2 separate regions of the Homo sapiens genome follow, and region 2 is linked to region 1. Evidence: fine-mapped expression QTL. A gene starts in region 1. The other region holds a variant in brackets. All regions are shown on one strand. Distances are from middle to middle. Region 1 holds the start of TCN1 (transcobalamin 1). Region 2 has its middle 17 kb from the start of OOSP1.

The links.
Region 2: its variant is fine-mapped to the expression of TCN1 in whole blood (TOPMed, PIP 0.92).

What each region holds. Positions count from the first base shown.
Region 1 is chr11:59,860,615-59,876,421 of GRCh38, forward strand. TCN1 (transcobalamin 1) reads right to left here and starts at 5,873. Exons shown (of 9, transcript NM_001062.4): 1 at 5,778-5,873; 2 at 3,293-3,472; 3 at 1,968-2,108; 4 at 913-1,068. The coding sequence starts at 5,856. RefSeq lists a silencer at 12,389-12,589.
Region 2 is chr11:59,913,377-59,929,183 of GRCh38, forward strand. No RefSeq gene overlaps it. Among named protein-coding and RNA genes, the nearest start is that of OOSP1, 17 kb to the right of the region's middle. RefSeq lists a silencer at 8,093-8,253. The variant A/T (reference allele first, on the strand shown) is at 5,867.

The DNA.
Region 1 (15,807 bases):
GGCTGAATCAAATAAACTGTCTTTGTAAGGCTCTCAAGGGTTTCATTAGACTGATTAGAAAATAGTACTTTACAGAGTTGTTGCCCAGTAAACCTCTTTACAAAAGAGGATGAGGCAAGAGACTGGAAGAAGGAAAGATAAGGACACGTTTTCTGGCTTGATACTTGGTGTCTCCTGTGTTCTTTAGCATGGGACCTTTCCTCTCTCATGGGAAAAGAAGTCTGAGAAATCTCACATTCTCCTTACTATCCAGAAATACTACATGGTGATTTGCTTTGAACTTCAATTTGAACTTTGAATTTGGAGAAAGATGAACTTGTATATCTGGATCCATAGAGGCTAAGCACCTATACTAACTGTCTAAAGACTTCTTTATGGATATTAAGGCTGACACAGTGGGAAATTTCTGGTTCATTTCCCAAGGTGAATATACAATCTATTGATTAAAATATTGGACTTTGTCACTGGAGAGGTGGTATTGTTCAAGACTCTCGAGGTATCCAAATTGTCCCAATAAACTAGAGAAAGAGACAGTGTTAAGATAAACGAATTCCATTGCATTTCCCTTTTCTAAAACTTACCCTTTCTAAAATATTTCATGTGGATATTCTCATGCCTTATCCTCATCTTACAAATGGAAAAATTAAGATCAAGAGTTAACATTCATTGTTTATATAACCCAAAGAAGAGCTGGAGCAGAAACCGGGTATTTCTACTATACCACACATCTAGAAAGAAGCTTAAATGCCATCCATCATCCATTCTTCTCAAAAAGAAAATTCCCTTTTGAGGGGACTAGAGCAAAGAGGGTAGAAAATAAAATCCAGGTACTTACTGGTAGAAAAACTCAAAGAGCAAGACCTACTGGTGACCATGTCCTCTGTACCAAGGGAATTGGGCTTAGTAACTCACCTACTGAGAACTGGCTACCAAAATAATAGTTTTTATTTTCAGGAGTGAAGTGGTTGACAACTTCGGCGGTTGAGTAGTTCCCATTGAACAGACACAAGGCCAAAACGTCCAGGCTGAGCTGGTAGTAGTTAGTCAGGGGAGTGCCATTGTGTGCTTCTAGAAAAGAGAAGAAATACCTCCCTTAATCATGGAAGTGGTAATGGCGTATGCATTTTCCATCTATTCCTACTTACTCTATTTTAATTTCTTTACATTTAAGGAAAGGTGGCTAATAGAAGGGGGAGGTCACCCATAGAATCAGAAAACCTGAGAAATGTGAGGGCTTTTAAGGGCCACTAAATTCCGCTCAATTTCTTTCATTTTATAACTGAGGGGACACAGTCTTAAAGAGATTAAGATGCTATCTAGATATTCAGATGGTTACAGAGTTAGGGCCAGAATACAGGTTTTCAACCTCCAAGCCTCTTGCGTTTTCAATAGTAAGGTGTTGAAACTGTAAGTAGAAACCTAGGTTAGAGGCCATCTCAAAGGAAAATGGACTTACTGAAAAATAGAATAAATATTGGGTGGGAACTGAAATAAAAACAGTGCACCTCACTAGTGGCCACCATGGCCGGTTGATTTTTCCCAGTGATAATGTACTCTGGCCACCTTTAGCTCATATACTAGCATTGTATATTTTGGTACTTATGACACTGTATCCTGTATTGTTCAGCTATTTCTGGTGTAATTCATCATTTGACTTAAAGCCAAGCTCCTGGACGATTAGAGAATGGTGACTTGTGTGTGTGCATGTGTGTGTGTGTGTGTATGTGTGTGTGTGTTTCTGCCATCATATGTAAAGTAGTACTTGACATAGGGTCAATGCTCAGCTGAACATATTTAAAAAGAAAATTCAAGATGCATACTGAAAGAGAAAAAGGGAAGTGCCCTCAAAGACATAGTGAGATGAACGGGATGAAGAGAAGGAAAGAGTGGAGGGAAACTTCATATAGTTTTGAATCAGTGGAGGAGAAGACAAGGTAGTCTAGGGTCTCTAAATATTTAATTCTTACCCATATTTTCAATTTCTGCTTGGAATTTATTTTCTAGCTTGTCGATCAGGTGGTAATCATATATTAAGTTTTCCTCAGCGTTACGACATACTCCCAAAGCCAGTATAATCAAGGCAAGCTCTCCCGAGCTTACATCTGACACTGAAAAGAAAAGTATTCAAGCTTAATAAGGTACAGGCTTGTGATTTTTTGGGCCTCCTGATTTCCTTGAGACTTATATTGCCTATCACTTTTTTCTTCTGTTGCGCTCTATACAGTCTTGTGTCGCTTAATGATAGGGATAAATTCTGAGAAACTGGTTGTTAAGCGATTTTGTCATTGTGCAAACATCACAGAGTGTACTTACACAACCTAGATGGTATAGTTGACTACACACCTAGGCTATAGGGTACAGCTTGTTGCTCTCAGGCTAAAAACCAGTATAGCATGTTACTGTCCTGAATACTATAGGCAATTGTAGCCCAATAGTATTTGTGTATCTAAACATATCCAAGCACAGAAAAGGTACAATAAAAATACACTATTAAAATCTTGTGGGACCACCGTCATATATATTCATCATTATGTGATGCATTCCTGTATGAATATTTGATTCCTCTCTTCTTTATCCTCAAAGCAGAGCCTTTTAGAGCAGTACTGTATAAATGCAAACTAAATCTTTGTCTTTTCCATAAAAATCACAGAATCGTTTTGGAATCATACAATCCTTATGAAAGTGAAAAAGAGGAAAAATAGATAAACAACAAGATCTTGGGTTTTTTTTTCTTTGTGGTACCAGCTTGCTAGGATAGTAATTCTTGATTTTTAATGTTCTGCCTTTTAGAGTATCCAAACTCTCAGGATTCTCATAATTCTTATAATAATATTATGAGGTAGGTAAGAGTGGCTTCTTTTCCCCTTATACTAATTAGAAAACTGAGGCTCAGTATTAACATGACTGGTTCAAGGCCCACCCATACCTAGTTCAAATCTGGGTTGTTCCATGGTTGCCTTTCCATCACCAGCTTTCTTAGTTATGATCTGTATTCCCATGTGGTTGTGAACTAAGCTAGCTTATATAACAGCATTAATGGATAAAAATCCATAGCTTTTGTTTGTGGCTTCTTGAAGAAAAGTGGTTTTTAAGACCAAAAGAAGCAAGACCTAGCTCTAGGGTGAATGGCATGGGATTGTATTTTGGGCATGTTTCTGTTACCTCAAGTTTGGTACCATTAGAAGGGATGTAGCAGGGATACTTTGGATGCATAATTTTTTAGGATTAGTTGCAGATAATCTTTAAATAGGTAGATTTTTTTCTAAATCTTCCAGAATATACAGCAACTTACATCTGCTTTTCACATTGTATTTGATTTGTTGGATCATCTTTTGCATCAGGGTTTGGATCTGGATTCCAACAAGTTTGAGGGACAACACAACATTGACAGCGCTGGTTCCCCTGTTATAGTTTGACTGGATCATTGTATTCAACAGAGGTTTTAGGCGGATGTAGTTTTCTTCACTTACCTCTGTGGCAGAGAAGGAAGGAAATAAGAAACACATACTCAGAAAATAGTAAGACTTGCAGCAGGGGTTATATAAAAATATTTAGTAACAGATATGGCACAGACCTAGACCAATCCAGTGGCTGCAGACTGTGTTGGTGGAATAATACAAAGGTGGGTCTTGAACCCACCCCCATGCCAGACATTACTCCTTTAACAACCAACATGAAAATGTTTTAATATTTTAACAACTGGTGCAGACTTATCATTGTGTACTGGCAGACTCCTGCCTGGGAAATCTAGCATCATTCCCTAATTTTGTATATGAAGCTTAGATAGATTGTCCTTAAAGAAACTTCCATAATTGGAGGCTGAGCTGAAACTAGACTACATGTCTTCTGACTCTCAGTAAGCAGGACTTTCTACTTCCTGGATTCAGTTCTTTCCTTCTCCATCTTCTAAATCAACTGGGTTAATGTTGAGAAAATGCAGGTAATAATTCTGTGTTATACTGGTGATTGACCCCAAAACTTCATTGTCTGATTACCCAGCTGGCTGGGCATCGAGATCATTATTTAGCATTATGCAGCCTGTAAAAAACTCTCCAGTTTTAGCCTACAATATGCCCCAATTCCAGAGATGGAGGGAAGTCACATTATACTGTGGAAGTAGGAAAATCCATAGCTCCCAAGGAAATAGAGGAGAATAAAAAGATTTACTATTTATTTAAACACAGGACACTTTGTCAATGTATTTTTCCATAATCTTGAGGAGTAGCCCCAAATCCTACATATCTCCAGATTATCTAATGGATTAGTGGGAGAGTGAGAAGAACATGAGGTTTGGATTCAGATTTTGGCCACATTTTGTGCTCCTTAACTTATGACTGTGGATAATAACTTATGTAACTTGTTTTACTCTTAGTTTTCTCATTTAAAAATTGTGGCTGTTAACACTTACCTTACAGATATTGGACAAGAAACCACCGAATAAACTGTAAAATGCTGCACATACTATTATTTCCAGCTCAACTGGAGTTTTTATCACTATACTTGAGAATCAAGGAAATGTAATTTCTCTTGCCCAGTTTTCTTTACTTTAAAAGAATGAGTCAAGAAGATCTGAATAGAGTGATTGTAGAAAGGTCATGGTTTGTTGCAGACACAATGGAACAATTGTGAGTCAGTTCTCTGAGATTTTGTGGAACCATCCAGCTCAGCAGATTTTCTGGCCCTGAAACAGACTTTTTAGTTCCTGATCAACAACTCAAATCAGCTTCCTTGAGTCTCAAAGATAAATTTAATTATTATCATTATTATTTAAAATGAATTGAAAGCTAAAACCTACATAGCCATTCCCTATTCTTAGGATCCAACAGGGGAAATGTCAAGCCAAGAAGAAAAATCAGAGTCAGAAGAGTCTATGCTTTAGCCTGTATGTATACAAGCCTGTCTTCTGTGGTGTTCTCTTCTTACTGGTTAGAGAGCACAGATAGTACCACCTAGTAATCTTTGGACTGGTTTGAAGCTCAATTTCAGAGTAAAGTCTCACAAAAGAGAATTCATGCACTTGAGAACTGCACCAGACTTCATGAGATAATTTGCTTCAATAGTCTCCCCTCATTATCCTTTATTTATGAATGAAGCTAAAGAAATTCAGAAATGTTGGGTCATTCAATAACTAAGGGATCAAACTAAACCTGAATTTAGTTTTCCCTTCTCTTACTTTAAAGTTCTTTTACAGAACCACACAATCTCTGGGGTCAACACCCATGCAAGAGATGATGGAACTTTATCCCATGTGTCCTGGGAAAGAGTTGAAGGAAGGTGGACATGCAACTTGGAACATCTAAACTCACTCATGACAAGACAGCAGTCATCACTATTTGAAAGAGATTATTATTTTTTTCTATGTAGTTACAAGGGGTTAACCCAAAAATCATGCATTGAATTTCAGGGAAAAAAGATTGCATATCAAGACCAAAAGATAACTTTCCATGATCTAGAAAAGTTTCTGGGAGCATAAATTTTCTGTCATTGAAAAGTCACATGAATAGGGAGTTACTTGGTAGGGATGCTGTGCTAGAGAGGATCTGAGCATAGAAAGAGCAGTTAGGCAAGTGAATACACAATCTATAATTCCTCTTACAACAACATGCATTGTGAGACTTTCCTCACCATCTCCTGCCACCCTTTTCATCATTCATGGAGTCCAACCACATACGAAACTGGAATGGGATCTTTTCTCAGGTAACTCTACATAGAGTCTCTTGTCAACAGTTTTCAGTAGACTATCACTCTAGAGTAATTTTAGCTCAAAGTTTACTCACCACAAATCTCGCATAGTTGGCTTGGAATAAAAGAAAACAGTAAGAGCCCCACTAGGGGCAGCTGGTGTGACTGTCTCATCTCTCCAACAGTGTACCAGAATGTTGATGAATTGGCTGGCTATTTATTAAGTGATGGGCAGAAGGTAATGAGAGCTCCTCCTTCAGGTTGCCTCAGCCTCTTTTCACTCAAGCAAATATTGAGCAATGTCAGGAGGTGTGGTCAAGTGTATTTGTCCATGTGATGTAATAAATAAGGAAGAAGACTTGAAGGATGTGGTTAGGGAGAATAAGGCAATAACTTTCCTTTGTCTCCTGTCCTAAACCTTCGGGTTTCATATCTATTATTTGCCTTCCGTGCAGTGAAGATATATTAGGCAAATGACTGTTTCCTATAATCTTTCCTTTTTTTTCCGTTTCACTTTATGTTTTATGTTTCCTGATAAAGTAGATTTGATCATGCAAACACATACAACATATAAAAATGGAAGTAAAAGAAGACATCCAAATGGGAAGCAGGCATATGAAAAAGTGCTTGAAAAGGTGCTTAACATCATTGATCATCAGATAAATGGAAATCAAAGCTACAATGAGATATCCTCTCATCTCAGCTAAAAATGGCTTTATTCAAAACACAGGCAATAACAAATGCTGGCACGGATGTAGAGAAAAGGGAAGCCTTGTACACTGTTGGTGGGAATGTAAATTAGTACAATCACTATGGAGAACAGTTTGGAGCTTCCTCAAAAAACTAAACATAGAGCTACCATATGATCCAGCAATCCCACTGCTGGCTATATACCCAAAAGAAAGAAGACCAGTATATTGAAGAGATATCTGCACTCCCATGTTTGTTGCAGCACTGTTTACAATAACCAAGATTTGGAAGCAAGCTAAGTGTCTATCAACAGATAAATGAACACAGCAAATGTACATATACACAATGGAGTACTATTCAGCCATATAAAAGAATGAAATCCTGTCAGTTGTGACAAAATGGATGGAACTGGAGATAATTATGTTAAGTGAAATAAGCCAGGCACAGAAAGACATACATTGCATGTTCTCACTTATTTGTGGGATCTAAAAATCAAAACAATTGAATTCATAGAGATAGAGAATGAAAAGATGGTTACTGGGGGCTGGGAAGGCTAGTGGTGGGAAGGAGATGCGGAGGGTTAATGGGTACAAAATATTGGAAAGAATGAATAAGACCTACTATTGGTAGCATAACAGGGTGACTATAGTCAATAATAATTTAATTGTACATTTTAAATAACTAATAGTATAACTGGATTGTTTGTAACGTAAAGGATAAATGCTTGACAGGATGAATACCCCCTTCTCTATGATGTGATTATTACGCATTGCATGCCTGTATCAAAACATTTCATGAGCCCCATAAATATATACACCTACTATGTACCTACAAAAATTGAAATAAAAAAATTTAAAAACGGAAGTAAAAGTTGTAAGTCTGAAATTGAAGCAGGCAGTATTGGAGAACCCAGCACATGAGGGGATCTTTGGCATAGTGGTTTCCAAACTATGATTTTTCTCCTAAGATAGATTCCATGAGAGTTTCCTAACCAAGGAGGAAAACCAGAGAGCTATACATCAAATGTGAATTTCTGCCCTGCCAGGGCAGTTGCTACATGTGAGAAGTGTTGCCTATCACAGTTCTTCTGAGAACTATTAGAGAATACTGTCAGCCTAGCTAAGGATGTCATGACTTAATGAGCCACTATTTGCATTGTACCTCTGTGATGGTTAATTTTCTGTGTCAACTTGACTGGCACCTGAGTGCCCAGATTAAACACTATTTCTCGATGTATCTGTGAGGGTGTTTCCAGATAGGATTAGCATTTTAATTGGTGGACTCTGGAAAGTAGAATGCCGTCTCCAATGTAGGTGTGCATCAATCAATCTATTGAGACCCTGAATAGAATAAAATGGTGAAGGAAGGGGGAATTCACCCTTTTTTTGCTTCCTGCCAGCCTGTTTGAGCTAGGACATCTTATCTTCTCCAGCCCTCAAACTGAGATTTACACCATCGGCTCCCCTGGTTCTTGGGCTTTCAGTTTGGCCTGAATCACTCCACTGACTTTTACTGCATGCAGACAGTAGACTGTGGGACTTCTTAGCCTCCATAAGGGCATGAATCAACTCCTTGGAATAAATCTCTTTCTCTCTCTCACATATTTATATAAAACTTATGTGGAAACCACCATTCTACTCTCTGTTTCCATGTATTTGATAATTTTTAGAATCTACATATAAATGAGATCATAGTATTTGTCTGTGACTTATTTCATTTAGCATGATATTCTTCAGGTTCATCCATGCTGTCTCAAAGGGCACTATTTCCTTCTTTTTTATGGCTGAATACTATTCTATTATATAAATATAAATATATATATACACACACACACATATATGTGTGTGTGTATATAAATCACAATTTTTATCCCTTCATCCATCAACAGATATGTAGGTTGTTTCTATGTCTTTGATATTGTGAATAATGCTGCAATGAACATGGGAGTACATATTTTATATAATATATATTTTTGTTTGTTTGTTTGTTTGTTTGTTTGTTTTTGAGACAGAGTTTCTCTCTTGTCGCCCAAGCTGGAGTGCAATGGTGCAATCTCAGCTCACTGGAAACTCCACCTCCCGGGTCCAAGTGATTTTCCTGCCTCAGCCTCCAGAGTAGCTGGGATTACAGGTATCTGCCACCACACCGGCTAACTTTTCTATTTTTTTTTAGTAGAGACAGGGTTTCAACATGTTGATCAGGCTGGTCTTAAACTCCTGACCTCAGGTGATCCACCCACCTCAGCCTCCCAAAGTGCTGCGATTACAGGCGTGAGCCACCGTGCCCATTCGGGAGTACATATATTTCTTTGAAACACTGCTTTTGCTTCCTTTGGATATGTACCCAGAATTAAGATTGTTGGATCATATTGCAGTTCCATTTATAATTTTTTGAAGAACCACCACACTGTCTTCCATAATGGTTGTGCAAATTTACATTCTGCAAACACAAAGGATTCTCTTTTCTCTACATCCTCATCCATACTTTGTTATCTTTTGTCTTTTTGATAATAGTCACCCTAACAGGTATAAGGTGATGTGATTATTCTGATTTGAATTTCTCTGATGATTAGTGATATTGTGCATGTTTTCTCATGCCTGTTTGCCATTTTTATGTCTTCTTTGGAAAATGTTGAGGTCCTTAGCCCATTTTAAAATCAGGTTATTTGTTTTGTTTTTGTTTTCATTTTGCTATTGAATTGCATGGTTCTTACATATTTTGGATATTAATCTATTTTCAGATATAGGTTCGCAAATATTTTCTCAAATATTCCACAGCAACTTGGATGGAGCTGGAGGCAATTATTCTAAGCAACACAGGAGTAGAAAACCAAAAAAAATATTTTCTCACTTATTATTAACATTATTTCATTCCTTTTAATGGCTCAGTAGTAGAATTCTTCTATACCCAATTTGTTGAGAGTTTTTTTTTATCATGAAAGGATGCTAAATTTTTTTGATTGATTTTTTTTTTTTTGCTTTTTTTTTAATGTGCTGTTGAATTTGGTTTGCTAGTATTTTGTTGAGGATTTTTGCATCTATGTTTATTATGGGTATTGGCCTGTGATTTTTTTTTTTTTTTTGGTAGTGTCCTTATCTGGCTTTGGTATTAGGGTAATACTCATCTTGTAAAATGAGTTTGGAAATATTCTTTCTACAATATTTTGGGACAGTTTGTGAGGAATTGCCATTAATTCTTCTTTAGGTATTTGGTTGAATTCACCAGTGAAACATCTGGTCCTAGGCTTTTCTTTGTAGGGAGGTTTTTGATTGCTGATTCAGTCCCCTTATTTATATTTTTGGTCTGTTCAGATTTTCTATGTCTTCATGATTCATTGTTGGCACATTGTGTGTTTCTAGGAATTTATGCATTTCTTCTAGGTTATCCCATTTGCTGGCATATAATTGTTCATAGTAGTCTCTTATGATTCTTTGTATTTCTGTGATAGCAGTTGTAATGTCTTCACTTCTTTCATTTATAATTTTACTTATTTGAGTTTTCTCTCTTTTTTCTTGGTTAGTCTAGCTAAAGGTTTGTCGATTTTTTTTTATCTTTTCCGAAAACCAACTTTTAGTTTTGTTGATCTTTTCCATTGTTTTTCTATTCTCTATTTTATTTGTTTCTGCTTTGATCTTTGTTGTTTCCTTCTTTCTGATAACTTTGGGTTTAGATTATTCTTTTTCTAGTTCCTTAATGTTTAAACTTAGTTTGTTCATTTGAAATCTTTATTTTTCCTTAATCTAGACATTTATAACTATGAATTTTCCTCTCAGTACTGCTTTTGCTGTATCCTATATGTTTTCAGATATTGAGTTTACCTTTTCATTTGTCTCAAGATACTTTTTACTTCCTCATTAATTTCCTCTTTGGCTCCTTGATTGTTCAGGAGTGAATTATCTAATTTCCATGTATTTGTAAATGTTCCAATTTTTCTCACATTATTGATTTCCAGTTTCATACCATTGGGGTCAGAAAAGATACTTGATATAATTTCAATATTCTTAAATTTGTTAACACTTATTTTGTGACTTAATGTGATCTATCCTGGAGAATGTTTTATATGTGCTTGAGAAGAATGTGTACTCCCCTGCTGTTGGATGGAATGTTCTGTATATGTCTGTTAGGTCCATTTGGTCTAAGTATTGTTCAAATATGGTAGTTCCTTATTGATTTTCTGTCTGGATTATCTATCCATTGTTGAGTGTGGGGTATTAAAGTCACCTCTGTTACTGTTTTGCTGTTTATTTTTCACATTAGTTCTGTTAATATTTGCTTTAAGCACCCAATGTTGGGTACATAAATATTTATAATTTTTATATCTTTTTGATGAATTGGCTCCTTTATCATTATATAATGATTTTCTTTGTCTCTTGTAACAATTTATTTGTCTCTTGTAACCTCGGCCTCCCAAAGTGTAGGGATTACAAGCATGAGGCACCACGCCTGGCCAAGAATCTTGTCTTTTATTCATGCAACCACTCTGTCTTTTGATTGGAGAATTTAATCCATTTAAGTTTCAAGTAATTTTGATAAGTTAGGACTTACCATTGCCATTTTGTGAATTGTTTTCTAACTGTTTTATAGTTCTTTTTTCCTTTTTTTCTTCTATTGCTTTCTTTGTGATTTGATGACTTTGTAGTTGTATGCTTCAATTCCTTTCTCTTGAAGTTTTGTGTATCTATTACATATTTTTCTAAAACTTGTTTTTAACAAGTCATTTCTACTTTGCTGCTTCCAACAGTGATTCTAAATTCTCATTTTACTTGAACTGATAGTTGATTACTCTCTTTTTCTTACTTCATTTGGCTGGAACACCATCCTTTTCTGGAGTTTTTCTACTTTTCTGACTCTTCCTTTTTGGCCTTTTCTTGCTACTTTCTCCTAATATATTTGACTTCTAAATGTTGCAATCTTCTAGGGTTCAGTGTCTAAAACTCTTCATTCTCCTATGTTGCTCTCATTTAATCCCAAGGCTTTAAATGACACCTATATGCTAGTGTTTCTAAAATTTATATCTTCATATAGAACATCTTTCTAAATTTAGATTTAAATTGAGGCCTGGTCATGTGACTGTCTTGGGTCAAGATGTAGTTAGCAAATATGAAAGAGGTAGTTAGCAAATATGAAATAGGTGGAAATTTAAAAATTCCTTCTGCTTTGGGTTTTGTGTTTTGAATTCTGTGATCCACAATGTGTATAAAACTGAGCTCATGTTCTAGTTGTTATAGCTGTGACCTTCTAGAAAGGTCATATAGAGGAGAACTGAAACATGCCAGCTGTAGGCTGCCAACTACCTGACATTGAATGAAATGCCTTTAGATTATTTAGCTTTAGTTGAGCTACCAGATGACTAAAGTCACATGAATAACACTGGCCAAGACCAGTAGAAGTGCCTAGCTAAAGCTAGCCCAAGCTACTACACATAGATTTGTGAGAAAAAGATTGTTTTAAGCCACTAAGTCTTGGGGTAGTTATTTATGTGGCAGTAGAAAAATAATACACTATACTTAGAATTTTTTCCAGTTATATAGTTCAAGCAATATTTTAATCAGCTGACCATCTATTTCATTCCCCGTTACCTCATGTTTTGTTGGATGATGTCATAAATCACTGTGGATCAAAGCACTTCTATTGTCACTCTGATTCTGTAGACAGCTATGGTAATTTCTACAACTTGTCTTTGATGATTAGGTACTGCCATCTAATTTTGGCTAATCTGGAATCACATTATAGTGACTGAGATAATTTCAATGGCTAAATCTTTCACTGTCAATCCCAACAACTTCCCTTTACTAATTCATATGTTAATGTCTAGTTAAGGTTGTATTCTCTGGGCTTTCCAGGAAAGAAAGAGGCCAGGTGAGCTGGAACAGATTTTGTACTTGTCTCCCTGGGGCATAATGGGATCCAATCCTAATGATGGTTCTAGAGGCAATTTAATATTGTACATAGTAAATCTCCTTCTAAATTCTTATCTCTCTTAGCCTTTGGCCACAAATTTCTGGCATCTCACTGAACTGAAGTACATAGTTTAATGGTTTTTAGTGTATTCACAAATATGTGCAAACTATCACCCCATAATCAATGATAAAGCATTTTCATCACCTCAAAAGAAACCTCATACCCATCAGCAGTGACTAATCAGTCCTGCCAGTCTTAGGAAACCACTTATCTACTTTCTGTCCCTATACTTTGCCTTTTCTGGACATTCATATAAATGGAATCATACAATATATGGTCTTTTGTAACTAGTTTTTTCATTCAGCATAATGTTTTCAAGTTTCATCTATGTTGTAGCATGTATCAGAACTTCATTCTTTTTTTTTTTGAGATGGAGTTTCACTCTTGTTGCCTAGGCTTGAGTGCAAGGGTGAGATCTTGGCTCACTGCAATCTCCACCTCCCGGGTTCAAGTGATTCCCCTGCCTCAGCCTCCTGAGTAGCTGGGATTACCGGTGCCCGCTACCACATCCGGCTAATTTTTATATTTTTAGTAGAGACGGGGTTTAGCCATGTTGGCCAGGCTGGTCTTGAACTCCTGACCTCAGGTGATCCACCTGCCTCAGCCTCCCAAAGTGCTGGGATTACAGGTGTGAGCCACCACATCCGGCCCAGAACTTCAGTTTTAATGGCCAAATAATATTCTATTATGTGGATATATAACATTTTATTTATCTATTTGGTAGTAGTCTTTTTTTTTTTGAGACAGGGGCTCCCTCTGTCACCCAGACTAGAGAGCAGCATAAACACCACTTACTGCAGCCTCGACCTCCCAGGCTTAGGTGATCCTCTCACCTTAGCCTCTGAGTAGCTGGGACTACAGGCATGCACCACAGTGCCCAGCTAATTTTTGAATTTTTTGTGGAGATGGAGTTTCACCATGTTGTTCAGGCCGGTCTTGAAACCCTGGGCTCAAGCAATCTGCCCACCTTGGTCTCCCAAAGTGCTGGTGACTAGAGGTGTGAGCACCATACCTGACTCTTTTCAGTAGTTGATGGACATTTATGTTGTTTCTATTTTTTTTTGGCCAATGCTGCTATAAACATTTGTTTACAAGTTTTCTATGGACATTTTCAATTCTCTCCATGTATATTTAGGAGTGGAATTGCTGGGTCTTTTGGTAACATTGTCTCTACCTTCTCTAATGACTAATGATGTTGAACATCTTTTCATGAAATTATTGGATATTTGTATATATCTAATATATATACAAATACACACACACACACACACACACACACACACACACACACGTGTTTTTTTTTTTTTTGAGACAGTCTTGCTCTGTTGCCCGGGCTGGAGTGCAGTGGCACAATCTCAGCTAGCTATAACCTCCACCTCCTGAGTTCAAGCAACTCTCATAACTCAGCCTCCCAAGCAGCTGAGATTACAGGCGTGTGGTACTGCATCCAGCTAATTTTTGTATTTTGTTTTTAGTAGAGACAGGGTTTCGCCATGTTGGCCAGGCTGGTCTTGAACTCCTGGCCTCAAGTGATCTGCATTCCTCATCCTCCCAAAGTACTGGGATTACAGGCATGAGCCACCACACCTGGCATCTTTTTTAAAGAGAAAACTATTCAGAACTAATTGTTTTAATTGGGTTTCCATATATCTTTTTATTAGTGAGCTGTAAGAGTTCTTTATGTATATTCTAGATACCTAATTTGCAAATATTATCCCATTCTGTGGGTTGTATTTTCTACCTGAATTCTTAAAAATCACTGAATATAGTTGATTCTTCCTTCAAATTCTAGATACATTTTCCCCACGTTTTCTGTTGCAATATCATCAACTCTCAGCCCCGTAATTTTTCTCCCAGTTTTTTTTTGACTCCTTCTTTGTACTCATTGCCAATCTTTTTTGAAACTTTAAATGTTGTATGACCTCAGAGCTTTGTACCTATATTATTTCTCATGCTACACACTCTCTCTAGGTGTTCTCACCCACATTCAAACCTTCAAATAGACTAATATTTTCCCAGTTTTCACTTTTATGTTAGATTCTCTTGAGTCTCAACTTATAGCCAAATGCCTTCTCTGTAATTCTACTTGGATGTCTTATTGCAATTTAAAAACCAGCATATCCAAAATTGAATTCTTAGTTTTCCATTGCAAACTTACTTCTTTATCAGTATAGCCATCTTTGCCATTTTAATAGCTCTGTGACCTTCAATAAATCTTTAATTTCTCTAGGTCTCCAAAATGTAGAAAATAGTTCTTATCTCCTAGGTTTTCATGAGGAGTCAATGAGTTAATATATGGAGGGTGCTTAGAGTAGTACCTGGTGCGTAATAAGCAGTACGTAATTGATGGCTATTATTGTCTCACTAATAACCATCAACTCAGTTATACCTGCCCAAAGTCTGGTTGTTATGCCTGATACTTCTGTCTCCTTTGATCACTTAACCAACCAACCAGAGTGACACATTCTACCTTCTGGGACCAGTCTGTCTCACCCTGCCTTCCCTGCCAATAATCTGATCAGCATTTCCAGTTTCTTGCCCTCTCCGAAATAGCTTCCACATTTGTGTGTTACTATTCACTTGTAGCCCTCTCCAAGCCATTCTCCCCCCAGCTCCTACAGCAGCACTTCTCCAACTTGAGTCATATATGGACCACATTTAGAGAAGGAATTCTTGAGGAACACAGTTTGAAATACACTGTCTTAAGACTTTTAATCCAAGACAATGGAAGTTTTGAATTTTCTTTTGCAACAGAGATATGTTGTTATTGTGCTGATGTTTTTAAAAAATATTTTAAAATCCTCATTCCTGGTTAAATCCTTGAAGCCTTCCACTGCATTTCAAATAAAACTCCAGACTTGAAATGTGATCTCTAAGAACAAGTACTTTCTGGCCATTTGTTAGCCACTTTCTTGACATTCTGTACTTTCGTTTGCAGCACTTATGAAAATAGCAATTAATTTTTGCAGAATTATTTCTTAACTGTGTGTATTTAATGTTTGTTTCCCTGCCTGACTGTGAACTCCTCAAAGGCAGCGATACACCTTTCTCGTTCACTATTGTGTCCTCCACGCTACCATAAAAAATGCCTATGATGTAAGAGGTTATCAAAATGTTTGCTGAAAGGAACCTCAGATCCTTAAGCCAAATGACAAATTAATAACACATACCGGTAGATAATCTCATTGGATAAATATTAGAAGGTTTTACAGGAGCAAACTAGGAAAAAAGTAAATGATAGAGGGGCCTTCCATGGAAATCAGGAGTGCCGTGGGGATGTAAACATCTGGGGTTAAAGTCAAAGTGACCCAAGCATTAAGTATGTTGTTGACATTTACCCAGAATTCCTTTATCTCATCAAGCAGATCCACTTTGAAATAATCAATATCTTTCGTTTCACTTCTCTCCATGCTAAGTAAGAGTTACGTAATTCTGATTATTTGCTTGACTTACTGAAGGCGAACATTGATGAGT
Region 2 (15,807 bases), 53 kb after region 1:
CCATTCTCCTTGGGAAATGATGAGTTAAGATCTTCAGCAAAAGCGAGAGTTGAGTTGGTTGATGTGCAGGGGAGTGGATGGGAGGCAAGTGCCAGGCAGTGGGAACAGAAGGTACAAGAGCCCTGAGGTGGGGATGTATGTGAGGTGGTGCAAGATAAAGAGTATGGTGGGATCATGGAGAGAAAGGGGAGCTGCCATGAGATGAGACTTGCTTAGTAGGCAGTGCAGAGAGGGCTGGAGGTGGCAGTGGCGTAAAGACAGGCCATTCTCCTTTAACCTACTTTTTTTTTTCTTTTTCTGTGGTAGAGTCTTGCTCTGTCGTGCCCAGGCTAGAGTGCAGTGGTGCGATCTGGGCTCACTGCAACCTCCGCCTCCTGGGTTCAAGTGATTCTTCCATCTCAGCCTCCTGAGTGGCTGGGATTACAGGTGCCTGTCACCACACCTGGCTAATTTTTTTGTACTTTTATTAGAGACTGGGTTTCACCATGTTGGCCAGGCTGGTCTTGAACTCCTGCCTCAGGTGATCCATCCACCTCGGCCTCCTAAAATGCTGGGATTACAAGCATGAGCCACCTTGCCAGGCACCTTTAGCTTTTGACAATGGTGCACCTTGTCAATAACAATGACACATTTGCCTAGTGTCTGGCCCACTAATTGTGATTTTGTGATCCTATTGCTAGTGTTCCTCAAAGTGTGGTCAGTGGAGCATCTAGTTTGAGTGGTGGCAGAGAATACTTACAGGCCATAAAAAGGAGAAAACAAACAAACAAACTCAGGTTGTAGAACCAGGAGAAATAACAGGATAAACTCTAAAAGAATTGCCTAATTGGCATCTCCACTGAGAAGTAGCAGGCATCTTAAGAATTTGAGAGCTGAGGCCAGGCGTGGTGGCTCACGCCTGTAATCCCAGCCTTTGGGAGGCCACGGCGGGCAGATCACTCAAGGTCAAAAGATCGAGACAATCCTGGCCAACATGGTGAAACCCTGTCTCTACTAAAAATGCAAAAATTAACTGGATGTGGTGGCACACACCTGTAGTCCCAGCTACTCAGGAGGCTGAGGCAGCAGAATCGCTTGAACCCAGGAGGCGGAGGTTGCAGTGAACCGAGATCACGCCACTGCACTTTAGCCTGGCGTCAGAGCAAGACTCTGTCTCAAAAAAAAAAGTTCAGAACTGACTGAATTTATAATTTTGTCCCCAGCCCCAGCCTGCTCCCCTCCTGGATCCCCTCCTGGCTCCCCTCCTGTATCTCAGTACACGGCAGCTGTTTTCATCTCTACACCATATTCAGTCTGGCAGAAAGTTCTGTGGCTTCTACCACTACTAACTTGTGACAGGCTGCTGTATTTCTCAGATAATTGCAGCTGTTGCCTAACTGGTATTTTTTCCTTGGTCCTTGAGAATCTATTAAATATTCTCAAGACAGCAGCCAGAGCCATTCTGTTAATACCCAGTGTATTTATTTTCCAAATCTGCTGTAACAAAGCACCACAAATTGGGGGGCTTAAAACAACACAGGGTGCTTAAAAAAACTGGGGGGCTTATTCTTTCACAGTTCTGAAGGCTAGAAGTCCAAAATAAAGGTGTCAGCAGGGCCATGATTCCCCTGAGAATCTTAGCAGAGTCCTTTCTTCCTTCTTCCTAATTTCCAATTGTTCCTCCAATCCTTGGCTTCCTTACCCTGCAGCCATATCACTGCAATCTCTGCCACTTATCACATAGTGCTTTCCTTTGTGTGTCTGCGTCTTCATGAGGCTGTGCTCCTTCTTCTTATAAGGGCATCAGTTACATTGGATTAAGTGCCCACCCTACTCCTGCATGACCTCATCTTAACTAATCACATAGGCAATGACCCTATTTCCAAACAAGGTCATATTCTAAAGTACTAGGGGTTAGGACTTCAATATATCTTTTTGGGAGACACAATTCAATCTATAATACCAAGTTAGATCATGGCATCCTCTGCAGAAGACCCCTCATTCTATATCTATCCAGGTCACAGTAAAAGTCATATGGTCTTTATTATGGCCCACAAAGCCCTAGCACTCTGTATTGTCTCCCAGGGAAGAGGGCTAGAAAGTGCCATCCCTTATCTACCTTGCTGCTCCATCCTCCTAACTCAACTTTAATTACCTGATGTCCTTGCCATTCATTGAATGCATGCTCCTGCCTTAGAACCTTTGCATCTGATGTTCCTTCTGCCTGGAATTCTCCTTGGCCCTCTGTATTAGTCTGTTTTCATGCTGCTGATAAATACATACCTGAGACTGGGCAATTTACAAAAGAAAGAGGTTTAATAGACTTACAGTTCCACGTGTGTGGGGAGGCCTCACAATCATGTCAGAATGTGAAAGGCACATCGTTTTTTTTTTTTTTTTTTGAGATGGAGTCTCGCTCTGTCCCCCAGGCTGGAGTGCAGTGGCGCGATCTCGGCTCACTGCAAGCTCCGCCTCCCGGGTTCACGCCATTCTCCTGCTTCAGCCTCCTGAGTAGCTGGGACTACAGGCGCCCGCCACCACACCCGGCTAAGTTTTTTTGTATTTTTTAGTAGAGATGGGGTTTCACCGTGTTAGCCAGGATGGTCTCGATCTCCTGACCTTGTGATCCACCCGCCTCGGCTTCCCAAAGTGCTGGGATTACAGGCTTGAGCCACCGCGCTCGGCCAAGGCACATCTAACATGGCAGCAGACAAGAGTTTGTGCAGGAAACTCCCGTTTCTAAAACCATCAGATCTCATGAGTCTTATTTACTATAATGAGAACAGCATGAGAAAGACCCTCTCCCATGATTCACTTACCTCCCACCAGGTTCCTTCCATGACACTTGGAAATTCTGGGAGTTACAATTCAAGATGAGATTTGGGTGGGGACACAGCCAAACCATATCATTCCACCCCTGGGCCCTCCCAAATCTCATGTCCTCACATTTCAAAACCAATCATGCCTTCCCTACAGTCCTCCAAAGTCTTATCTCATTTCAGTATTAACTCAAAAGTCCACAGTCCAAAGTCTCATTTGAGACAAGGCAAGCCCCTTCTGCCTATGATCCTGTAAAATCTAAAGCAAGTTAGTTACTTCCTAGATACAATGGGGGTACAGGCATTGGGTAAATACAGTCATTCCAAATGGGAGAAATTGGCCAAGACAAAGGAGATATAGGCCCCACGCAAGTCCCAAATCCAACAGGGCAGTCAAATCTTAAAGCTCCAAAATGATCTCCTTTGACTCTATGTCTCAAATCCAGGTCACATTGATGCAAGAGGTGGGCTCCCACAGTATTGGGCAGCTCTGCCTCTGTGGCTTTGCAGGGTACAGCCTCCCTCCTGGCTGCTTTCATGGGCTGGCGTTGAGTATCTGTGGCTTTTCCAGGTACACAGTGCAAGCTGTTGGTGGATCTAACATTCTGGGATCTGTAGGATGGTGGCCTTCTTCTCACAGCTCCACTAGGTGTTGCCCCAGTAGGGACTCTGTGTGGGGGCTCTGACCCCACATTTCCCTTCTGCACTGCCCTAGCAGATGTTCTCTATGAAGACCCTGCTTCTGCAGCAAACTTTTGCCTGGGTAACTAGATGTTTCCACACATCTTCTGAAATGTAGGTGGAAGTTTCCAAATCCCAGTCCTTGACTTCTGTGCACTCACAGGCTCAACACCACATGGAAGCTGCCAAGGCTTGGGGCTTGCATCCTCTGAAGCCATGCCAAAACTCTGCATTCAGCCATGGCTGGAGTGGCTGGGATGCAGGGCACCAAGTCCCTAAACTGCACAGAGCATGGGAACCCTGGGCCCCCAGCCCACAAAACCACTTTTTCCTCCTAGGCCACTGGGCCTGTTATGGCAGGGGCTGTGGTGAAAACCTCTGATATGCCCTAGAGACATTTTCCACATTGTCTTGGGGATTAACACTTGGCTCCTCATTAATTATACATATTTCTGCAGCCGGCTTGAATTTCTCCTCAGAAAATGGGATTTTCTTTTCTATCACATTGTAAGGCTGCAAATTTTCCAAACTTTTATGCTGTGCTTCTGTTATAAAACTGAATGCCTTTAACAGTATGCAAGTCATCTCTTGAATGTTTTGCTGCTAGAAATTTCTTCTGCCAGATACCCTAAATCATCTCTTTCAAGTTCAAAGTTCCACGAATCTCTAGAGCAGGGGCAAAATGCTGCCAGTCTCTTTGCTAAAATGTTAAGAGTCACCTTTGCTCCAGAGTCACCTTTGCTCCAGTTCTCAACAAGTTCCTCATCTCCATCTGAGATCACCTCAGCCTGGAATTCCTTGTCCATATCATTATCAGTATTTTGGTCAAAGCCATTCAGCAAGACTCTAGGGAGTTCCAAACGTTCCCACATTTTCCTGTCTTCTGAGCCCTCCAAACTGTTCCAACCTCTGCCTGTTGCCCAGTTCCAAAGTTGCTTCCACATTTTCAGGTATCTTTTCAGCAGTGCCCCACTCTACTGGTACCAATTAACTGTATAAGCCCATTTCATGCTGCTGATAAAGACATGCCCCAAGACTGGGCAATGTACAAAAGAAAGAGGTTTAATAGACTTACAGTTCCACATGGCTGGGGAGGCCTCACAATCATTGTGGAAGGTGAAAGGCAGGTCTCACATGGTGGCAGGCAAGAGAAGAGATCTTGTGTGGGGAAACTCCCATTTTTAAAACCATCAAATCGCGTGAGACTTATTCACTATCACAAGAACAGCACAGGAAAGACCTGCCCCCATGATTCACTTACCTCTCACCAGGTTCCTCCCACAACATGTGGGAATTACAGTACAAGATAAGATTTGGGTGGGGACACAGCCAACCCATGTCACACCTTTTCCTCTATGATCAGTTCCTTTGACAACTAAAGAACTCTGCTTAAATGAGGCCTTCCCTGACTCAAAAAATTACTTAAAATCCTATCCTCTGTCCTACATTAAACTTTTTACCTGCCTTATTCTTTCACAGTATTTATCACCATCTAATGTGATATATAATTTGCTTATTTTTTATTTTCTGTATTCTTTCCTTATAATGTCACCTACATGAGGTTTCCAGTGCATAGAAGAGAACTGGCACATGATATATTTCATTTACTCTGACATGGACAGTTTTTTACACAGTAAAAAAATCAGAATTCTAGAAAGTTTATAATCAGCTATATATAATGATTGGTCAGTGGACAGGAATGCTGTAGCTGTCATCATTTGCACATGGAGAACTTGGTCTGAAACTTTCTGTTGGCGCCTCTTGGTAAGGTCAGAGAGTGCTGGCATAAAAATTTGAGAAATAAGTACCACCAATTGGCATACAATCTGGAGAGAAGAATGAAGCATTCTTTTAAGAGATATTGCATCACCAATGGTGGTGATGGCTCAAAGAGAGATATATTTGTGGGGAAACAGGAACATTGATGACTGCGATCCAAGAAGTGATTTAGAAGAGTGAGACTCACTGTAAAAATATTTTAGGGTTACTTCAACCAATTAATTTTGTTTATACTTGCTTTTTGTTACACTTGCTTTTGTATACAGCACAAGAGTGATATGATTAAAGATGTCCATAAGAGCTCTTTCAATTTTTATAAAATTCAAAGACTAAGTAGTAAAATGTGCCTGATTCATTGGTAGTTTCTTTAATCCTAAAGATATAAAGTTTCCTTAATCTTCGTATGAAAAATAGTGGTATAGTTAAAGCTTAGATTCAATGAAAAATGGGAGGAGATGCTCAAATATTTGTTAGATGAGTGAATAAAAATTCACCCCAGACTTTTTTTTTCCTTCCAAAGGGCCCTGTGGCTTCCTTCCTCTAAACCCATTAAACAGTGCCATCTGCAGGGAAGGCAGCTCATGACATCATGTTTAAATATTAGAAGA[A/T]CAATAACAAGGTAAAAAAATTGGCAATGCCACCATTCAGCTCTCTGTGAGTATCTCTTAAAACTAGAAGTTTATTCTGACCCATCCATGAGTCAGATCTAAGATAAGCAGTTATTATCTTTAGGCAAGACTGAGTCGGCACATCAGATAGATAAAGGAAAGAGAGAGAAAGAGTTAAAATGTTTGTGCAGCCTATATTTTTCTGGCTAACAGCCACTAGGAAAAGCTGGATTGAGAAAGACCTACATTAACTTTCTTGTGTTCTAGTAACTAAACTTTTAGGCAAAGCCTAAGACTGTCCTGTTTAAACGAACTGTTTCTATCTAATAAGAAATTATAATGATATGGTATGATGGCAAAGCTATTTTAGAGGCCTGGACTCTCCATTAACCACAGCAGTTTAGCAGAGAACAAGGTCTCTGCCACAATCCATTATCCTAAATTAGCACGTGGGTGTTGGAGATGGGGGATGGCATGACAGCTCCATATGAGTATTAGGGGTTAATAAATGGAAAAGGCTGCTGCTGCTAAATCCAGCCCTATAATTACATTTTGGTCTCTGGGTCAGTTCCAGGTCACTAGCATCTCAACTAGCCTAAAACCCATATAATGCTTATTTGTAATTTTAATTTTTAGTTCCGTATTAATGGCATTTTATATGCCCCCAGTCATAATGGAACAAGAGTGAATTTGGGCATCAGAGATGCTGATTTTACTACTGATGGAATCTCAGGCCTACGTGCTGTCTGAATGCTCATGCAGTGGTTGTAGATACTGTACTTTACCTTTTAGATGGTGAGGGTGTTGAAAAGGTATTTTTTTTTCATTTCCATGTAGGTGCTTTTGTGACCATAAAATCAGTTTTACAATTAAAGTGATGCCTACATTCCTGCAGTGCATCTCTTTTCAAGAGCTTTGTTTAATAATCTCTACATGCAATAAAGGAATTGCATCTCTCTCTTTTGTGCCTCTCATGGACTTTCTTCCTTCCCCCGGTGCCCTCTGCTGCATTCTTCCTTCTTTGACTGCCAGTCCTGGTTTCTGACAATGTAACCTTGGCTGGAACTTAGGTGATGATTTTGCTTTCCTTGTTTGGTTGAGTAAACTTGTAACCCCAGGAACATGTGGAAAAAAATAGGTATAAAGTGTGCATGTTGTGTTTATAGGGATGTGGTGAAACATTTTCCAGTCACTATGCTGCTTTATGGGTGCTGTGACTTAAGATGCTTAAGGGGATTTGAGCTACTAAATATCTAAGTTTCAGTTTGTATTTATGAGTGTGATTTAAGTCATTGGGAGAGTTTATTCTAATTAGTAAGTCTGCTTTGTTAGAAATTTGAAACATTTGAGAGAATCAGATATATTAAATATGTAACTATACTTAAAATATCTGAGGATATTGACATTAAATTGCATCAGATGAGTAGGGAAGACATCATTTGTAAACTTGGATTAATTGTACATTAATCAAAGAAAAAGTAAAAAAAGTAATGATTTTAATACTTGAAAAAATAGGATTTATAGGTTGAGATACTTTAAAAAGTTTTACATATGTTTCATCAATATAATACTTATTAGAACAAAATAAAATTAAAATTTTCTTGCACAGAAATGCCTTTAAGATAGTAAAATGTCAGTAACAAATATCACATACTTAAAATTTAGTTCCATAGAAATATGTGATCTGGGAAACTGCAGTTTCTTAACAAGGCTGTGCTTTCTTGGAGAAAATGTATGGAAACAGGACATTGATAGCTAGGAACACCTTCTCCAAAAATGACTGGGTATCTTATGATGCCTTTGGGAAAAGGCATCTACTGAGGTGGTCATATGATTATTCTTTTTTATTCGGTTTATATTCACTAGAAATTGTAATTTTCACTGGATATTGAAGCCTAGATTGTTATTTTTTAAGTCAGCATTTTGAACATGAATTTTTGTCTACTGTTCTCCCTATTTCCTTCTGATACATCAGCCTTCATTCTTATTACTCTCCAATTGTAATGTGTCTATATTAGTCTGTTCTCACACTACTATAAATACATATCTGAAACTGGTTACTTATAAAGAAAAGAAGTTCTGCAGGCAGTACAGGAAATATGGCTGGGAGGCATCAGGAAACTTACAATCATGGCAGAAGGCGAAGGGGAAGCAAGCATGTCTTACATGGTGGGAGCAGGAGAAAGAAAGAGTGAAGGGGGAGGTGCTACACACCTTTAAACAACCAGATCTTGTGAGAACTCACTCACTATCATGAAAGCAGCAAGGGGGAAATACATTACCATGATTGAATCACCTCCCCACCAGGCCCCTCCTCCAGCACTGGGGATTACAATTTGACATGAGTTTGGGAGGGCCACAAATCCAAGCCATATCAGTGTCTTTTTAAAAAAAGCTTGGGAATCTTTTTATATTTCTTGTTTGCAGCAGGAAAATTGTCTTTGCACTGGCACTTTAGTTGCACCTTGTATAGGCATTGCATTTCTCCATCAGGTGGGCAGCTTCTGGATGGTCTGGTTTATGATATGACCTGTGGAACTCTTGATCATGTGTCCTGCCCTGCACTTCTTGTTATAAATGAGTCCATTGGTCTGGCATGATGTTATCTGGTATCATGCTGGTGGTGAATTAAATACTCTAAGCCCTTGGATAGTAGTGTTGACTAAGGCCCTGCAGACAAACCTATACCTGGTAGGCATATGATGTGGTCAAATTGTCACCAAGTTGCTGATTGGTCTCTTCCAGTGATATGTGATCTCAGGGACTTAGGGTTATTGTCAGGTTGGACATTTGGTAACAGCGGTAACTCGATTAGTTTTGTTAAGTCAGAACCCATGCTATTAAGCCAGATATAGCCTCCATCCTTGCCACCACAGCTATTCTGTTTGGGTTCTCTTGTGCTAACAATGGCATGGCTAATGACAGAAACTGGCCAATGTCAACTGGCCAAGTCATTTTGTCCACCTATTTGTATAGAAATTCTTCCATGGTGGATGCTCCTTGGTGGATATTAACAAGGGTTATGCTTTCATCTTCATGGTGGGAGATGCAAGACACAATTATTTGTCCTTTACAGGAAATGTCCCAGCATGTCCCAGACCACCGGACACAAAAATTTCAATCTGTTTGGGCCTCTGAAATTTTATAGGGTTTATCTCCTCTCTTTGGAACTCAGGTGTCTTACCAATTCTCCCAATGTACCAGCTACTTCTTGCTTATCCAGCTCAGTTAGTACAATATTGTCAGTATAGTGTGCCACTGTGATATTCCTTGATATGTTCACATGGCCCAGGAATCTTTGGAATATATTATGGGAGGGGGTAGGAGTGTTAATATATCTTTGAGATAACACTATACATGTATAGTGTTGTCTGTTCCAAGTAAATGCAGTTTCTGATTGACCAGATCCAGGCAGCAGCTGCATACTGTGTCCTTGAGTTTGGGGTATCATCTCTAGCAGAAATACTACCCTTGGCACAGAGCATTTAAGAAGGACTGCAGGTTTCAGGTGGGAACTTGTGAGTGTTAGAGCTATGGCTCCAGAAAGGTTTAATTCTTGCTTCAGCACTGGGAACTGAGAAAATGGGTAACCAAAGTATCACTCGATTAGAATCAGGGACAGTAACTAAACTGATAAATGCTTTTTATGAGCATGCAAATTTCTATTTCATACCAACATCCCAACCTAAAAGTTTCCACCAGGCAGATTTGTTTGGAGAGGCAGAGGAAGAGGAGGGAGAGTGGGTAGAGAGAGAGAGTGAGCTTTTACTTGGGCTCACTCTCTTTCTTTCCTCCTGTTATAGCTACACTACTCTGAATGTTGCCAATGCTCTTTCCAATTCCTTTCTTCCCCTTCTCTCTTAAACTCATTTCAATTGGACTTTCACTCCCACCCTGCACCCAAACTGCTTTTTATTAAAATCAGCAATTGCTCTTCACATTGCTTCAGCAATTACTCTCCACATTTGCTAAGTCCAGGGATTGCTTTGCAATCCTCATCTTGCTTTATCTATCAGTAGCACTTGTCTATTTTCACTACTAGTATTCTATCTTGACTTCCAGGCTGCCACACTTTCTTCATTTCCTCCAGTATAACCTCACCGACTTCTTCTTAGTGTTTGCTGGTTCCTGTTCATCTCCCTGACCCCTAACATTAGAAGGCCCCAGAGCTCAGCCTTTAACACTTAATCCAACTTTTACTAAATTATAGACTGTAATGATAGACATCTAATGAGATAAAATAAACTTTATTCATAAACATTGTCTTATATAAAGTTAAAAATGAAGAGAGTGCCTACTAAAAAGGGATTGTGAAAAGGTACCTGGCTATTGGGAGTAAGCCCCCAAAATCTGGCCATAAACTGGCCTCAAAACTGGCCATAAGTAAAATTTCTGCAGCACTGTAACATGTCCATAATGACCCTAATGCACAAGCTGGAAGGTTGTGGGTTTATGGGAATGAGGGCAAGGAACACCTGGCTTGCCCAGGGTGGAAAACTGCTTAAAGGCATTTTTAAGCCACAAACAAAAGCATGAGCAATCTGTGTCTTAAGGGCATGTTCCTGCTGCAATTAATTCAGCCCATCCCTTCATTTCCCATACGGGATACTTTTAGTTAACTTAAAGCTATAGAAACAATGCTAATGACTGGTTTGCTGTTAATAAATATGTGGGTAAATCTCTGTTTAGGGCTCTCAGCTATGAAGGCTGTGAGACCCCTGATTTCCCACTTCACACATCTATATTTCTTTGTGAGTGTCTTTAATTCCTCTAGCGCCACTGGGTTAGGGTCTCCCTGACTAAGCTGGTCTCAGCAAGTGGCGCCTAACATGGGGCTCAAATCCAGGTCGAAGGGTCGCTGGAGTGATGGTTGGAACGGAAGACACCCAAGTACTCTTAAAGCAATCCCCATGGTGAGTAAGAAGGGGAGCTCAGAAGTATCAGGGTAACAATGGGACAGGTTTGGGGTCTGGTTTGTTCCACCTTGGAACTTTTTCACAGTGATGAGGAGAAAGAACAAGAGTATAGCAAAGTAACAGAAGAGGTTACAGAGCATGTTTATTTGCCAGCTAAAGCTAAAGTGGCAAAGGAAGGAGAGGTTCATCCCTACCCTTCTGCACCCCCTCATTATTATTTTGAAGAAAATGACCCCTGAGATCTTTCTTTTCTGGAGGACACTGGGCAAAAAGTAGTTGCCCCAGTGACTGTTTCAGCAGTGCCTCGAGCAACAGCTCTTAGTTCTATTCAGGCAGGAATTCAGCAAGCTAGACAAGAGGGTGACTTAGAGGCTTCACAGTTCCCTGTTAGAATACACCCCCCCAGATTAAGAGGGAAATATTACAGCTGCATTTGAGCCTTTTTCTTTTAAATTACTCAAAGAATTAAAACAAGCTATAAATGAGTATGGACCAGGTTCTCCTTTTGTAATGGGACTGTTAAAGAATGTTACTGTTTCCAGTCGGATGATTCCTACTGACTGGGATGCTCTTACTCAAGCTTGTCTAACTCCTGCTCAGTTCTTACAATTTAAAGCTTGGTGGGCAGATGAAGCTTCCATTCAGGCTGCTTGCAATGCCCAGGACCAACCTCAAATTAATATAACTGCAGACCAACTTTTGGGGGTTGGTGGCTGGGCTAGGTGCACAACTCATCATGCAGGATGATGCCATAGAACAGCTTAGAGGAGTGTGCATTAGAGCTTGGGAAAAAATCACTTCAGGTGGGGAACAATACCCTTCCTTTAGTGCTATAAAACAGGGACCTAGGGAACCACATGTTGATTTTATAGCTTGGTTACAGGAGTCTCTTGAAAAGATGATTGCAGATTTGGCTGCTCAGGATATAGTGTTGCAGTTATTAGCTTTTGACAATGCTAATCCCAATTGCCAGGCTGCTCTGTGACCTATTAGAGGGAAAGCACATTTAGTTGATTATATCAAGGCCTGTGATGGTATCGGAGGTAATCTGCATAAAGCTACTTTGTTGGCACAGGCAATGGCAGGACTGAGAGTGGATAAAGGAAATACTCCATTTCCTGGAGCTTGTTTTAACTGTGGGAAGCATGGTCATACTAAAAAAGAATGTAGAAAAAATCAGCAAGTCAGGCCGCCAGATAGGTGAAAAAAGAAAACTGTTGAGCCTGAGATATGTCCAAAATGTAAAAAAGGAAAACATTGAGCTAGTCAGTATCACTCTAAGTTTGATAAAGAAGGAACCCAATTCAGGAAACGCCATGAGGGGCCCATCCCAGGCCCCATTCTAAACCAGGGCATTTCCATCTCAGGCCATTCCCTCACCCCATAAAATGTCTGTCCCCTGCCACAGCCAGTAGTGCCACAATAGATTTATGCTGCACAAAAGCTGTGAGCCTTCTGCCTGGGGAACCCCTGCAAAAGGTCCCAACAGGAGTCTATGGACCCTTGCCAGCAGGGACTATAGGATTACTTTTAGGAAGGTCTAGTTTAAGTTTAAAAGGTGTACAAATACATACAGGAGTCATTGATTCAGATTGCAATGGGGAAATTCAAATTGTTGTATCTACTTCTGTTCCCTGGAAAGCAGAGCCAGGAGAGTGCATAGCACAGCTCCTGATTGTGCTGTATGTGGGAATGGGAAGAAGTGAAATTAAATGAACAGGAAGATTTGGAAGCACAAATAAACAAGGCAAAGCAGCTTATTGGGTAAATCAAATTACTGATAAATGTCCTACCTGGGAAATAACTATTCAAGGTAAGAAATTTAAAGGTTTGGTAGATACAGGAGTGGACATTTCAATCATTTCTCTACAGCACAGGCCGTCCATGTGGCCAATTCAGCCCACTCAATTTAACATAGTTGGAGTTGGTAAAGCTGCTAAGTATATCAAAGTGGTTATATTTTGCATTGTGAAGGGCCCAACAGACAACCTGGAACTATTCAACCAATTATAACTTCTGTACCTATAAATTTATGGGGAAGAGATTTATTACAACAATGGGGAGCACAAGTTCTAATTCCAGAACAATCATATAGCCCTTAAAGTCAAAATACAATGCATGAAATGAGGTATGTCCCTGCTATGGGACTAGAAAAAAATTTGCAAGGTTTGAAAGAACCGCTTCAAGCAGAAAAACAAAGTTCCCGCCAAAGATTAGGAAATAATTTTTGATGGTGGCCATTGTTAAGCCTCCAGAACCTATACCTTTAAAATGGTTAACAGATAAGCCAATTTGGATAGAATAATGGCTGCTAGGTAAAGAGAAATTGGAGGCTTTAGAGAAATTAGTTGCTGAACAATTAGAAAATGGGCACAGAGCTCCAACATTTTCCCCTTGGAATTCTCCAGTTTTTGTAATTAAGAAAAAAATCAGGTAAATGGAAAATGTTAACTGACTTAAGAGCCATCAATTCAGTTACACAACCTATGGGAGCATTACAGCCAGGATTGCCTTCTCCTGCTATAATTCCAAAAAATTGACCTTTAATAGTCATAGATTTAAAAGACTGTTTCTTTACTATCCCCTTGGCTGAGCAAGACTGTGAATGGTTTGCATTTACAATCCTGCAGTAAACAACCTGCAGCCTGTTAAGTGTTATCATTGGAAAGTGTTGCCGCAGGGCATGTCAAACAGCCCAACAATTTGCCAGACATACGTGGGGCAAGCAATTGAACCTACTTGTAAAAAATTTTCACAGTGTTACATTATTCGCTATATGGATGATATAATTTGTGCTACCCCCACTCGAGAAATATTACTCCAATGTTATGATCACTTGCAAAATTTGATTTCTCATGCTGGTTTAATTATAGCTCCTGACAAAATTCAGACTACTACTCCTTACTCCTACTTGAGCGCCTTAGTAAATGACACTACCATTGTGCCACATGAAGTAACCATACATAGGGATCAACTAAAAACATTAAATGACTTTCAGAAATTACTAGGGAATATTAATTGGATACGACCTGCTCTAGGCATTCCTACCTATGCCATGAGTAATCTGTTTTCTATCCTTAGAGGAAATCCTAGTCTCACTAGCCCTCGGCAATTAACAAAGGAGGCGGAGGCAGAGTTAAACAACTGATTGAGAAGTAAGTCTATAAAGCTCAGATAAATAGAATAGATCCAGAGAAGACTCTAGATTTGCTAATCTTTTCAACTCAGCGTTCACCTACTGGTGTTACTGTCCAAGAACAGGACTTAGTATACTGAGTGGCTTTTTCTTCCACATACTAATTCATATACTCTAACTCCTTATTTAGATCAAATCACTACTATGATAGGGATTGGGAGAACTCGGATTGTTAAATTACATGGATATGATCTTAGAAAAATTATTGTCCCTCTCATGAAAGCACAAATACAGCAAATTTTTATAAATAGTCTTACTTGGCAAAAAGTAGCTGACTTTGTGGGTATTCTCGATAACCATTTTCCTAAAACGAAGCTGTTTCTGTTTTTGAAATTAACTAATTGGATTCTCCCTAAAATAACTAAATTTAACCGAATTGAAGGTGCTGAGAATGTTTTTACAGATAGGTCTAGTAATGGTAAAGCTTCTTATTCTGGCTCAAAAAGTAAAGTTTTTCAGACGTCCTATACTTCAGCTCAAAAAGTGGAGCTTGTAGCTGTAATTGAGATATTGACTGCTTTTGATATGCCTATTAATGTGATTTCTGATTCTTCATATGTGGTTCATTCCACACAGTTAATTGAAAATGCTCAGTAACGATTTCATACAGATAAACAACTAATGACAAAAACAAAAAAGGAGGAAAAATAGGGATTACAGGACAGCCCATACACAATTGAATCAGCATTATTTGGCGAAAAGATCCAATAACAAAAAGTTGGGAAATAGGTAAAATAATAACTTGGAGTAAAGGTTATGCTTGTATTTCTCCAGGCCAAAATCAACAGCCGATTTTGATACCATCAGGACACCTAAAACCTTATCATGAGCCAGATGCCAAAGAAGAGATTCCAGGAGGTTCCCGAGGACCTCCCGGTTGCAGCCATGTTGAGACTGATGCTGAGGAGGACCCCAGCTGCCATGAGCAACGCCGTCAAACACAGCCACCCACCTGGGCACAGATCAAGAAGCTGTACAGATGACAGAAGAAAACCTGAGGAAAGCAGGACAACCAGTCACGATGAATAATTTAATGGTAGCTATGATAGTGGTTATCACCACTGCCATTAAATATTCCTTCATAAAGGGCTGGCAATAATGCCTGGATGCAGTCACTCTATGACACAGTTACACATGCTTTCTGATCTCAGTATTTACCATAATAAATCTGCTCCTATAATTGAGGCATACTGCCCTCAAAAACCTATTTGTAAACAGGATTGGACCCAGTTAAAAAAAAATGAACGTACTCGTTTAGGAAGATTGCTTTGCAGAACAGGCAGAGGTGCTGCACAATGATTCCTATGGAATCATTATTAATTGGTCCCCTAAGGGGATGTTTAGCTTGAATTGCACCTCTCAGTCTGCATGCCATGGTCACACTATGTTCAGATGATCTGAACAAAATGGTCAGATGATAGCTATAATAAAAAGTACAGCAAAAGTTCCTATTATCTGGAACCATGGTGATATAGTGGCATCTCAACCTCAAATGATATGGCCTGCTCTAGGAGCAAAACATAAGGATTTGTGGAAACTATTAAATGCTCTTAATAAGATCAAAATTTGGGAAAGAATAAAAAAGCATCTAGAAGGACACTCTACAAACTTGTTTTTGAGTATAACAAAATTTAAAAAAAAACAAATATTTAAAGCATCCCAGGCACACCTGACCTTAATGCCAGGAACTGGAGTGCTTAAAGGAGCTGCAGACAAATTAGCAGCTAGTTAACCCATTAAAATGGATAAAAACACTTAAAAGCTCTGTGATTACAATGATAATGGTGCTTTTAATCTATGTTGTTTGTCTTTATGTAGTCTGCAGATTC